4 separate regions of the Homo sapiens genome follow, and regions 2, 3 and 4 are each reported to be linked to region 1. Evidence: microRNA targets listed by miRTarBase, many of them from high-throughput screens and not tested one by one. Region 1 holds a microRNA gene; each other region holds the end of a gene's coding sequence.

Region 1 (3,213 bases):
TGACGTAGAAAAGGATGAAAAGTAAGTTTTATTAACTCTGTTATATTTGCTTCCTAACAACTTTGCTGTAAAATTGAGGGATCATTGTTTGGTGAGTTGTTTTAGGTTATTTCAGTTGGTGTGATTTCATTTAGTTAGCCTACTAATCCTGAAAATTTCTTGAATCCTTCAAATAATGGCTGTCACCATTTATAGCTTTCCTATAGAAGGAATTCATGTGTCCCCTGGTTGACTTAAGGACCAAGGGTCGAACTGCTCGATAAGTGGATTAGCAGGCGTTTCCTCTTTGACTTCCAGCCATGTAAATTGAACTTAATGTTTTGCTGACCATAAATGTGTGGCCCTAGCAATGGTCTTTTAAAACTCAGGATTTTTCCTTTCTCTCTCCTATTATTAGACTTATTCGTCTAATGGAAGAGATCATGAGTGAGAAGGAGAATAAAACCATTGTTTTTGTGGAAACCAAAAGAAGATGTGATGAGCTTACCAGAAAAATGAGGAGAGATGGGTATGTGTGAGCTCCTCCATTGAAGCAGATTGATTAAAACAGCTTAGGAAAGGGCAAACTTGGATCACGAGCAGTGGATTTTTTTCATATCTGATAGTGAATTTAACTTTTTCATTTCTGGCGAAATTAAAGAGATCTGTGACCAAAAGTGGTCAAGCACTGGAGTCTGAGGTTTTCAATGTGAGTTTAATAACACAACTTGTCTTTTAACTTAGGTGGCCTGCCATGGGTATCCATGGTGACAAGAGTCAACAAGAGCGTGACTGGGTTCTAAATGGTAAATATTTCAAATGAAGTATTTTTCCCCCTTACTTAACCTAGCTAGAATTCTGCTCAGATAATTGATCATGTATATGCCTTCCTTTGTAGAATTCAAACATGGAAAAGCTCCTATTCTGATTGCTACAGATGTGGCCTCCAGAGGGCTAGGTTAGTACAAACTCGCATTCATGGCTTGGTTTCCCAGAAGATCTCCATTTAACTTTTTTAAAGAAAGTTTATTGCTTTCTTTAACCTGCATTTTTTCTAAGTTTTTTTTCACATAAAGGTGCTGTCTTTGTGGCAAGGCCTAGGCATGACAATCGGAGGACTCGAGGGGGATGGAGGACTAGTGATCGGCTGGCTGCTTCCAGTCGATTAGAGAGGTGAAAAAGCTGAACGTGTGCCAGTAATCTTCAAAAGGCAGAACATATCACCTCTGCCCCGTAAACTGTTCTCTCCGAGGGAAAAAATGGAAGTTATCCTCACAGTTCACTGCCGTGGTATTTCTTCTGTCCCATGCTTTGCATGACTGCCATGGTACAGCCTTGTTTCAAACTGTTCACTGTGATCTGTGGGTCTTTGAGTTTCAGTGAGTTTGCTGAAATGTCGAAGAAGTAGTTCCAAACTTCAATGTTCAATGAAATTTTTGTTCAAGTTTGAAATGGAGAGAGCAGCTTTAAAAGGTACTAAGCCTTTTACAAATTGGTGAGTACTGGCACATGAGATCTAGAGCAGGAGCAACTTCTCACACATAGTAAGTGGGAAAAGAAAGTGCTTTGAAAGTTCCTCCCTCACCTACACAGTAGTCGTCATGTCGAGACCTGCCAGAGAGAGACACATTCTCAAGTGAATCCTGGCTTCTTGGAAGCGCTTGCCTAGACGAGACACAGTGCATAAAAACAACTTTTGGGGGACAGGTATGTTTTCTTGCAGCTGCGGTTGTAAGGTCTTGGCAAGACAAGCAGTGTGGCCAGAATTTTGAACTTCTGATGAATGTGTAATGCAAAGGACCTTGTACATTTTTTTGTTTCAAGGTCCTCAAAATGAGCACATGAAGAGGTTGCTGTGAAACTTTAAGTGGCCCTACTGCGCAGAAGCATTCAGATGTCACTTGATGATCTGTAAGGGAACTTGCTGATTTGGGAATGTGCTTAGGGAACACACATTCCTTTTGACAGGGTCTGTCACTGGGTGGGTGATGAATTATACAGATGACATGTGCTTTTTTTTCTTTTTTCAACCTCAATGGTATTCCTACAGGAAATGGATAACCATTTTAACTGTATTTTTTGCAGCCCGTACCTTCTTGGGAATACAATTGTCTAACTTTTTATTTTTGGTCTGGCTGTTGTGGTGTGCAAAACTCCGTACATTGCTATTTTGCCACACTGCAACACCTTACAGATGTGGAAGATGTGAAATTTGTCATCAATTATGACTACCCTAACTCCTCAGAGGATTATATTCATCGAATTGGAAGAACTGCTCGCAGTACCAAAACAGGCACAGCATACACTTTCTTTACACCTAATAACATAAAGCAAGTGAGCGACCTTATCTCTGTGCTTCGTGAAGCTAATCAAGCAATTAATCCCAAGTTGCTTCAGTTGGTCGAAGACAGAGGTTCAGGTAAGGATGACTGATAGGAAATGTTGGTAGTTACGAGTCACATCGTTGTCTACAAATCCATTTAAATGGTATTGGAGGGTGAGTAAAACCTTGAATGTGAAAACTTAAGCTGAAAAATTGTAAAAACATTTCACGCCTACCATGAATAGATCTGTTTCTTTCTGTCCACAATGATTTGTGTCATAGACATAATTGATCAATTTGCAATTGTTTTCTTGACAGGTCGTTCCAGGGGTAGAGGAGGCATGAAGGATGACCGTCGGGACAGATACTCTGCGGGCAAAAGGGGTGGATTTAATACCTTTAGAGACAGGGAAAATTATGACAGAGGTTACTCTAGCCTGCTTAAAAGAGATTTTGGGGCAAAAACTCAGAATGGTGTTTACAGTGCTGCAAATTACACCAATGGGAGCTTTGGAAGTAATTTTGTGTCTGCTGGTATACAGACCAGTTTTAGGACTGGTAATCCAACAGGGACTTACCAGAATGGTTATGATAGCACTCAGCAATACGGAAGTAATGTTCCAAATATGCACAATGGTATGAACCAACAGGCATATGCATATCCTGCTACTGCAGCTGCACCTATGATTGGTTATCCAATGCCAACAGGATATTCCCAATAAGACTTTAGAAGTATATGTAAATGTCTGTTTTTCATAATTGCTCTTTATATTGTGTGTTATCTGACAAGATAGTTATTTAAGAAACATGGGAATTGCAGAAATGACTGCAGTGCAGCAGTAATTATGGTGCACTTTTTCGCTATTTAAGTTGGATATTTCTCTACATTCCTGAAACAATTTTTAGGTTTT
Region 2 (3,000 bases), not on the chromosome of region 1:
TGACTTCCAAGCAGATTTTGGTAACTGACAAGTCCATCCTCAACATGCCTGAAAGGACCTTAGTTACTAAAGTATTATACTAAAAGACAAAGCTCAAGTGTCTTTGCCTTCTTTGTGGGACCCCAGTGGCAGTGGCATCAGACATACACAGACAAGCAGGCATGGCAAATGTACTGTTTGGTGGTATCAGATCACCATTTAACAATAAAAACACACATTTCAAAGCACCTTGTCAAAAAGGAATAGATAACTGTATCTCATTACAATTTCCCTTACTACAAATACGGAAAGCAACTTTTAAAATGATCCAAAAAAGGAAACAAGATCCTTTCTTCTCCTCCGCCTCCTTTTCATTTTACAGGTCAATCCCGGACAGCCATGGGGGCACTTCCCAAACTCTCCCACCTATATCCGAGACTTGGCCAGGCCCATCTACTTCTGCACGGATGTCAAAGAGGACAGTCCACTATTTCCAAAGAAGGTAGCAGTACATGCGAATTAGGAGCTTTGATTTTTAAAACAAAAAAAGTCCACGATTCAACTTCCCTAATGCTTAAGATTCAATTTTTCCAATTAAGATTTTTAGAGTTGAGATTCACTGTAGTGTTCTTTTTTTTAAAGAAAAAAAAAAAAAAAAAAACGAAAAAAAGAAAGAGAAAAAGAAAAGAGAAGGAATGTGTGTAGGGTGGGGAAGAGGTTTCTGTTACATTAACTGAAACTTACAGGACACTAGAGAAGTCAGCCTGAGGCTCTAGGACTATTAGCACAAGAGGAAAGAAATGAGTAGGCATCATGTCAAAGTTTGAAAAGCTCACCTGGGGCAAATACTGACAACTGGGAGCAGTTCCTTAAGACTTCTCTTATTTTAAACCACTTATCTTTTCCAAAAAGCTTATTTTACTACTTAAAAAGAAAAACCCCTAGCTCTTTCGGAGGGGTAGCATAGAAACAGACTGAGATAAAAATCATTGCCTTAAATTTGTCTTTGAAGTGGAAATGTGATCATATGCAAAGCACTAAAGGAATAAAAACAATTTCAATTGCCTTCTAAGATGACATGTTAATAATCAAATGCATGAACTAAATAGCATGTGATCTCATAGGTTAGAATTCCCCTTCTCATCAAGGGCTCCCACCTGAGACCCATGCCTGGACAAAGAAGGGATTACTATTGCTTAAAAATAGCACCTAATTTATGCCAATAGAAACTCCAGGCTCTTCAGTGTTGGCCTCCACTGAAAAGGCCAAGAAAGAAAAATGTAATAATGTTCCCTTGAATCTGAACACCATCAGTGACATTTGCTACAGCAAATCCACAAAGTTATGCAGAATGTTGGGACCCTCATACCTAAAGTTACAACCTGCCATCCTTCTGAGGATATCTGATACTATTTTCATATTCAGGAAAATTTTACAATTTGACTTTTAAATGTACAGAGGCCAGAAGAATACTACTATATTACCTTAATTAAATCTGTAATCCTGCCACACATCCCTTGCTTTTTAGTGACTTATTAACTGATTCCCTCTTGAAGAGGGGAGGGCAGGAACCTTATAGTTTCATGTCACTTACAATGGCTGGTGCATGGCTAATACTTATTAGAAATATTTGTTGAAAGAGTGGTTAACATTATTATAACTCCCTGTTTTTGATGTCCCCCAAATTTACCCTATTTGTTTCTTAGTAAACATATATCATACATATAACCTTTATTTAAAACAAATAATAGAAGAAGTTCACTTTAAATAATCAGGTATTCCATATATTCAAGTGAATATGTTTTATTAAATGCATACTAATATCTTTCTATAGTATGTGAGTACACATAATAAATTAAAATGTATATATTTATTAAATATAGATAGATATAATACCAGAACATGATTATTTCAGATGAGAAATCAAAATAAACCCATTTTTAAGTATCTTTTGGTCACTCCAAATTGATATTGCTCATAAAAAAATACACTAGTTTTCCCTGGGGAAAAAAAATTAATTCCATAGCAATGCAGTTAAGGGACGTGTTTTATTTCATAGCTTTCTGCAAGCAAAATTGCTCTGATACAAAATGAGTTCAATGATACAGGTGCTACTGTCCACTCAAGCAAAAGAAAACCTCACATGTATATGAACGCACTTTATACTTATATTCTTACAGTATAATAGGTCTAATATCCAGGATGCCTCTGGCCTCATTGAAAGCAATGGCAGAGAAATGCTGCAAGGTACTTGAATATCATAGTACTGGCAAGTGCTTGAAGTAACTTCCTGTGAGTTCTCTGTCAGATACTGCAAAGACTGCGTGTGGGTGTGTTTGTCTTTTTGTCTTCCATCTTTTGGTTTACATTTAAATCATCTCAAAAAATATCCCCTGCATGTATCATTCAGCTTCTCAGAGTTTCCATAAAAACAGGAAAATGTCATGAGGTATCCCTAACGTCAGGGATTGATGTAGTGCTGTGGCTGTCAGAGAGGATGTAGACTTACCTGTAGGTACAGTAACTGAGTTTAGTGTGTGCCCGGCACGTTACAGTGCAGAAATGTTAGTTCATGTTAAACTTTTCCTCCTCACATATGATGTGACTTTAACCCCAGAATATCTGACAAAAAAAATTATACAGATAAAATAAAAAGACAAATACACAAATAAGGCCATCTGCAGAATTTTAAACTCGCCTCTTGCAATATTTCACAAGAATTTCTACACCATATTTTACATCGTTCAAACTTAAATAATAAATGCTCAAGGAAGGGCCTTGGTAGAACCAATTGCACTATCTCTTTGAGGACTTGTCCAATTTGCTGGCAGGTGATTTCCTCTGGGGCGTGGGGATTTTTGAAGGCTTCGCTGTGGATGGCCGAGAACCTGCTCGGGGTGTAGGTCTGTGTGTCTGGGGGACAGTTTCCACATCTGAGCACACGGACTGGATTTCTGAAATGTCAAAGTCTGATGCATCACTGCCTCGGCGGCTGCTGGCCCTGCTGCCAGCTTTGCTTCC
Region 3 (3,213 bases), not on the chromosome of region 1:
CAAGCTGAAGCTTTGGGTTCTGACTGACCCACCCTACAGGACTGCTGAACAGAGAGCCCAGTGTGACTAGGGATCCTGAGTTTTCTGGGACAATTCCAGCTTTAATCAATACATTTTGTTAAATGTGCCATAAAATGAGACTTTTTACGCCTTTATAAGGCCTTAGATGTAAATAAACTCACCCAAACAAAAAAACTTTTTGAGACTACTTTTGAGTTTGTTTTTTGAGACAGTCTCACTGTGTTGCCCAGGCTGGAGTGCAGTGGTGCAATCTCAGCTCACTGCAGCTTCCTCCTGGGTTCAAGCAATTCTCAGGAGGCTGAGGCAAGAGTAGCTGATGCTACAGGCATGCACCACCACACCTAGCTATATGTCTAATTTTTTGTATTTTTAGTAGAGACAGGGTTTCACCATGTTGGTCAGGCTGGTGTCAAACTCCTGACCTCAAGTGATACGCCTGCCTTGGGGCCTCCCAAAGTGTTGGGATTACAGGTGTGAGCCACCGCGAAAAACAGGGGGCCTCACTTCAGAACTGGTTTAGCATTTACCAATTAAGAACATCAGATGTGCACTCCAGCCCGGGTAACAGTGAGACCCTGTTTCAAAAACAACAGAAAGAACACCTCCTGAGAATTGGCAAATTAAGGTGGTTTCTGGGAGCACAGCCAAACCCTAGAAAAACATTCAAGCTAGAGTGAATGTGCCACTTCACCTATCTCCTGGTTTACCAGGGAAGTTCATGTTGCTATTGACAGCTCCAACAAAGAACAGTAGCAATTCCTGTGGGCCAGGCCCAGCAGCCACACACGAAAGACACTGTGAGAATGGTATGGGCTGCCTAGTCTGGGTATGTCAGGAATAGAAATCCTTTTCTAACTGGCACACCATTTCAGAAAGCTTGAAAGACCAGAATCATCAGTCACATTTCTTCCTGTTTTAGTCCCGGGTGCTCATGAAGTAACCCTGGAGTATGTCACTGGTTTTAAGACTAGGTTGAAAAAGGCAGATGGGTCCCTTTCTGTACGAAACTGAGATTTTTACTGACATGCAGATGTGCTTTAGAGTTAATGTTTCTACAAAAAGTTTCTATAAACAATAGAAAATTTCTAGCATGAAGTCACAGGATGTTAAAAATATTACAATGCAATAAATACAACTACATCCTCCACAGCCCCAACCAGACAGGAATAGGCAGCTATCAGGTTTGGAGGGAAACACTCTTGAGATCGCCTTCACGATCCACAGAAACCCAGAGCACCACACAGGAAGAGGGAGCAACACAAGACTCCCAACTTCTGCTTCCCCAGCTTTGCTTCTTCTCAATCTGACCCTGCCTGTGGCCCGCACCAGCTAAAAACTGTAGCTTCAGTCCACTTCGGCTCTCGGGGAAACCCTCTTGTCAGTGGACTGGATGGACAACAGGTCTGTTTTTGTGCAGAGCACATGGACACACTGGTTTCTGTATGGATTAACTCTGCCTTACGGCCAGTAATAACCTCAGGGCCAGGTCCCGTATCCATGTCCTCTCTTTACAGGGCCTTTCAGTGACCTCTAGAATGGACTCACAGTACAGGTTGTGATGTGAAGGCATGTATTCTTTTGGAAATGGCCTTTGAGAAAAGTAACCAGGGACCTGAAAGACCATGAGATTGTGGAAGGCACCTGGACTTAGTCCTAGGAGAAGACCAGCGGCTTTGCTAGCTGCTCATCACAGATGTAGCCTAGTTGGTCTGTATTATCCTTGGATGACAACGGTGTCATGTGACACTATCTAGGGTACTGTGGCTCTTGTGCCTGAGTGGACCTTGAGGCTGGGGAGGCCAGACTGAGGGGTCATTCATGGAAGGGCAAGATGTGTGAACTCTAAAGGGGATGTTAGCACTAAAGACTTCCCAGCCCTGGTCCTTGGAGGTACTATACTTGATACTGTGCCAAGTTTAGCAGTAGCCTGTACCATGGATCCCATCAGGTGACCAGATTCTTGCCCAAAGCAAAGTTGAGAGAACTGACCAAGTTCTCTTCAGCACTTAGCACCTAACCCAGACATGCCCCTTAGGGAGTGGGGAAAGTTTCCTGCCAGCCCAGCAGCAAAAGGGCTCAGTGGGAGTTGGAGTGGTCCAAGAGAAACTCTGGCACAAGTAGTTGAGGGCTGTGCTCTTGCTGCGAGCCTTGCTAGTCGCAGGGTTGGGCACAGCACCCTTAGTTACCATTCTGTACAGGTATGTGGCTGCACGGGGGTGGGAGGGCTTGTGGGAGAAGGGCTGCTCTGCTCTAGCTTTTCTTGGAAAAGCCAAATCTCCAAGTAGAATGGGAACTATCTGGGACATCTAGACAGAATAGTTTAAGCCCTAACTCCCTTTCTTGATACTTTAGTATAATTACTTCTGGTCCTGCACAGGGCCTGTTCTCTCCAGCTCCAGACCTGGATCTCTTTCCAGGCTGACAGTGGTGGAAAGTGAGGTGGCAGTGCAAGAAGGGCCTAGAGATCGGCTACAAAGGGAAAGAAGAGATGACAAGAAAGGCCGAGGAAGGATGCCCAAAAGCTTGATTCAGGGTTCAAAGATGGTGGCCAGGCCACCCCCATCATTGTCCAGCACCTCCGTCTCCAGCATTGGCTTTGTTTTTTTGAAAAGTGAGGGAAGATTCTTAATGTGAACTTCTTTTCGGAACTGCTCTCCCAAGGGTTTCTGTGGAAAACAAATGAGAAAGAATTAATGCTGGGCCCTCAGTAGTAGTTAAAAGATTCTCTTGGCCCGGCGCAGTGGCTCGCGCCTGTAATCCCAACACTTTTGGGAGGCCAAGGCGGGTGGATCACCTGAGGTCAGGAGTTCAAGACCAGCCTGACCGACATGGAGAAACCCCGTCTCTACTAAAAATACAAAAAGTAGCCAGACGTGGTGGTGCATGCCTGTAATCCCAGCTACTTGGGAGGCTGAGGCAGGAGAATCGTTTGAACCTGGGAGGCGGAGGTTGTGGTGAGCTGAGATCGTACCACTGCACTCCAGCCTGGGCAACAAGAGTGAAACCCCATCTCAAAAAAAAAAAAAAAAAAATCTCACCATAATGGTCAATAACTACAGCTGGTTTATGGTTTGCCCATACACATGATTTAAGAAGGGGGTTGGGAGCACTATTGAAGGTGCATGACCTACCCCAATGCAACCAGCAATGAGGCGTTTGAATTGGTCCTTTCGGCGCTTGTCAGCCACTTTC
Region 4 (3,213 bases), not on the chromosome of region 1:
ACTTATAGCAAAGTAAGGTAATAAATGCTGGAAAACATCCAAATTCTTTTTGTATGGAATTTGGCTAAAAGAACCCAGTGCTCAAACCACACTGTAAGTTCATGAAACAGAGAAAAACATGTACCCTAAACCTAGGTTCTGAATCTTTCGCATATTTTAACGTCAGTTCTGTTTATGGAATTTGGGTCTGTTTTCCTGGTGTGGAAGTGTACTTGAAGTAGGGTGAAACAAAGGCAGGTTGAGATACCTGTGATTAATAAAAGTAAAATAATTTCAAGTCAACTTAATTCATTTCTCCAATCTCATAGTGCACACCCACCAGGTTCTTTAATTATGGAAAGATGGTCTTTCTGCATCCAGAGAAAACATCTGATATTACACTGAAAATTTAGTGAAATCTATAAAACACTATTACTTTAGGTCATCCAAGAGGGCAGGAAAATAACTGTTACAAAAAATATTTTTGTATTTTTGTAATGGGATTTTACCTATAACAATGGTAAAAGCTCACATTTACTGAGTGACCAGTATGTGTCAGATAATTAAGAATTTTACACGGATTGACTTAATCCTCCCAAAAACCCTATAAATTAGATGTGATTACCATTATTAGCCCTGTTTTATAGATGGAAAGTAAGCTTGGGTAATTTAAGCTCATTTCCATTCTACAACAGGATTCAAACATGAGGTGTCAGTTAGCACGCTTAATCTCCATGCTACACCGTGTTCCCGTCTATGTAGAAAGATGAGTATCTTCCCACCTATGTAGAAATATGAGTATGCTCCATTCAGGTAAAATCCCATCTCCTGTCAGATTTTTCTCTCTTGCAGCTCATTTAAAATACATCCTGAAAGTTATTTGATCATAAGATGTAATTCCTTTAAAGCATAGTTTTTGACTTAAAAATTAAATATTTTCCCTATTACATTTTTAAATTTTTACTATCTCCAAAAATGTATAAAACATTTGAAACATGTTAAAAACAGAATAAGACAAAAAAATTCATGTTTTAAAGGAACATATCTGGTTAGCTGGTATTCCATTGAAAGTATCTTATAATAAACACAAATTTTAATTTTTCATTTAACAACACTAAAGAATGAGGTATATAAATGTTTTAATCACAGACTTTTACTGTATGCAATTAATTGTATTTCACAACTAGCATCTTACAAAAAAGACAGTACCACTGTGCCTGTAAAAAGTACTGTAATTAAACAGAAAATTACATTACCACATGAAACCACCAAATATCACAACTGTTAGGGTCTACAGTTTTATTTTTTCTTCAAATGTTATCATGATGTCTTATGTGATATTTTGCATCCACATTCTATTTTTAAGTTCATTTACAATTCAGAAGTCTCCTTTAGGTAGATATATATTAAGCAAATGGTTAAGAGAAAGCAGGAGACCCCAGGAGAATTTAAGTACTGTGTGGTTTCTAGGTTGAAATTCTAAATACAACATAAAACTCTTTAAATAGTTGTAAACAAAAATGCAAAATCTGTAGTCATAAAAATATTTTATTGGTAATTTTACATAGTATAAGTGGGGCTATACTTTTTTCCTTTCAGGATACTGAGAAATGTGTAAACTGGCAGCTGTGTCTGAAAATAGGGTACTATGATTTTCATAAGAATTATTGTATTTAATAAGAAGCCAATTTGACTGATTTAAAATTAGTTATTTCCCATTTCTGTGCAATAATTCCCATTTCTGTTTTAATTAGATTCATACTTCTATGGCCCTGGATAAGTTTGGGACAAGAAAACAATGATAAAACTATCATTAAGTTAAAGCTTTTCTAAAATTGCAGCTTGTAAAATATGGCAAGTTTCTTTTCTCTTGTTTTTGCCAAATGCTTATAATTATTTGAATTTTAATGTTTTATATGATACAGAAAATACCAGTGTTCAATGACAATAGCACTAAACCTGAATTATAAAGCTAAATAATCAATGTTTTATTGTTTACTAGTCCGCTAGTAAACATTACAATAAATGAATGTTTTGAAAAATAAGCAAACAAAAAAACCTCAAAAAATAGATAAAACCAGAAACATAATTCAGGAACAATAATTAGTAAAACGTGTCAAAAACATTGGCAAAGGTTCATACAAATTCTTTATTTAATAACAATTTTCCTATTTAACCACACCAAGTACCAGCAGGTGTATTTAAGAGGATAACCATTAAGAAAAACCTGTTGCAGCAATAGTTAAGTTGTTCTTTGACTTGTATACATATAACTATCTGTTTCACAATTCTCAAATAATACATATTTAGGCAGCTTGCACTATGTTATAAAAAATTTAAATTCGTTACATGCCAATAGTAGAGAATTCAAGAATTATGTGTTAGAATTCACTAAACTAAAAGTGAAAATACACTTACCAATAACACTGCATAATGAATAATTCAACCACATTTTCATGGCACTTAACTGCAGAGACCAAAATGTTAAGTCTGGAAATGTTTGGTAGGCATCATTGCAATAAAATCTAACAAATTCTAACAAATTTCTATTTTATGTAAAACTCAAATTATGGATTGTGCATGAATGTATCTGTCATGAAAATGTGGTACCTCTTGGCATAATCTGTGTATTTGCATGGTAGGACAGAAGTGACTAAGAAATTGGAGAAAATAAACTTTAATGAGATTCTCCATTCAATGATGAGGCTTCTCCTCTGGGTGAAGATGACCTGGACATTCCTCTCTCTGTGTTATCAGAGCTAGAGCCGCTTTGACTGTGTTGATCTGCAGAAGCAGCACTAGATGCAGGCGGTGACTTTGTTTTCTCCTTAAAGTCTGTAATAATGACTGTCAGATCTCCAACAGTAACTTCCAAATGCTGAGCACTACTCCGATCCACATTTTTCAATCTTGGCCTAAACATAAAAAAATGAAATTTTAAACTAGCTTTTCCCTCTACCAAATTTCTGAGCATATAATAAATAATAAAAGTGGTAAAAGTAACAAAATGAATACATGTATTTAAGGCAATTTATGTGTAACTAGCCACAAAAACATCATAAAATGTTTCAACTCATTAACATTAATCAAACCAATCATTCATGAACATTCTTCAATGCAACCAAAAAACTGTGACAGCCTAGAAGTAGAACTTGTGCTTCTATAGCTGTATCATAATTTTGCAGACAGCTTATTAATTTTATTAAAATAGATGTTTTAGACAACAATGAAATA

What was found. The annotated mature microRNA hsa-miR-5047 reads UUGCAGCUGCGGUUGUAAGGU and lies in region 1 at 1,697-1,717, shown strand. An mRNA with a match to its seed (bases 2 to 7 or 8) in the 3' UTR can be bound and repressed. Matches are read on the target gene's strand: a 7mer-m8 pairs with bases 2 to 8, a 7mer-A1 pairs with bases 2 to 7 and ends in A, and an 8mer does both.
Region 2: miRTarBase lists DST as a target of hsa-miR-5047. The part of its 3' UTR that is shown has no 7-base or 8-base seed match.
Region 3: the mRNA of XPO5 is a reported target of hsa-miR-5047. The part of its 3' UTR that is shown has no 7-base or 8-base seed match.
Region 4: the mRNA of YAF2 is a reported target of hsa-miR-5047. Seed matches in the 3' UTR shown: 7mer-A1 at 2,210-2,216, 8mer at 1,815-1,822 and 8mer at 826-833.

Annotation. Positions count from the first base shown.
Region 1 is chr17:64,499,734-64,502,946 of GRCh38, reverse strand. MIR5047 (microRNA 5047) reads left to right here and starts at 1,634; the gene lies at 1,634-1,733. DDX5 (DEAD-box helicase 5) reads left to right here. Exons shown (of 13, transcript NM_004396.5): 8 at 1-21; 9 at 398-508; 10 at 724-785; 11 at 878-937; 12 at 2,174-2,398; 13 at 2,621-3,213. The coding sequence ends at 3,024. It overlaps MIR3064 (microRNA 3064), which reads left to right and starts at 2,108; the gene lies at 2,108-2,173.
Region 2 is chr6:56,456,230-56,459,229 of GRCh38, forward strand. DST (dystonin) reads right to left here. Exons shown (of 104, transcript NM_001374736.1): 104 at 1,767-3,000. The coding sequence ends at 2,776. Among named protein-coding and RNA genes, the nearest start is that of COL21A1, 210 kb to the left of the region's middle.
Region 3 is chr6:43,521,319-43,524,531 of GRCh38, forward strand. It overlaps XPO5 (exportin 5), which reads right to left. Exons shown (of 32, transcript NM_020750.3): 31 at 3,153-3,213; 32 at 1,016-2,687. The coding sequence ends at 2,550. POLR1C (RNA polymerase I and III subunit C) reads left to right here. Exons shown (of 9, transcript NM_203290.4): 9 at 1-195. Among named protein-coding and RNA genes, the nearest start is that of POLR1C, 5.8 kb to the left of the region's middle.
Region 4 is chr12:42,157,933-42,161,145 of GRCh38, forward strand. It overlaps YAF2 (YY1 associated factor 2), which reads right to left. Exons shown (of 4, transcript NM_005748.6): 4 at 1-2,894. The coding sequence ends at 2,657. Among named protein-coding and RNA genes, the nearest start is that of GXYLT1, 15 kb to the left of the region's middle.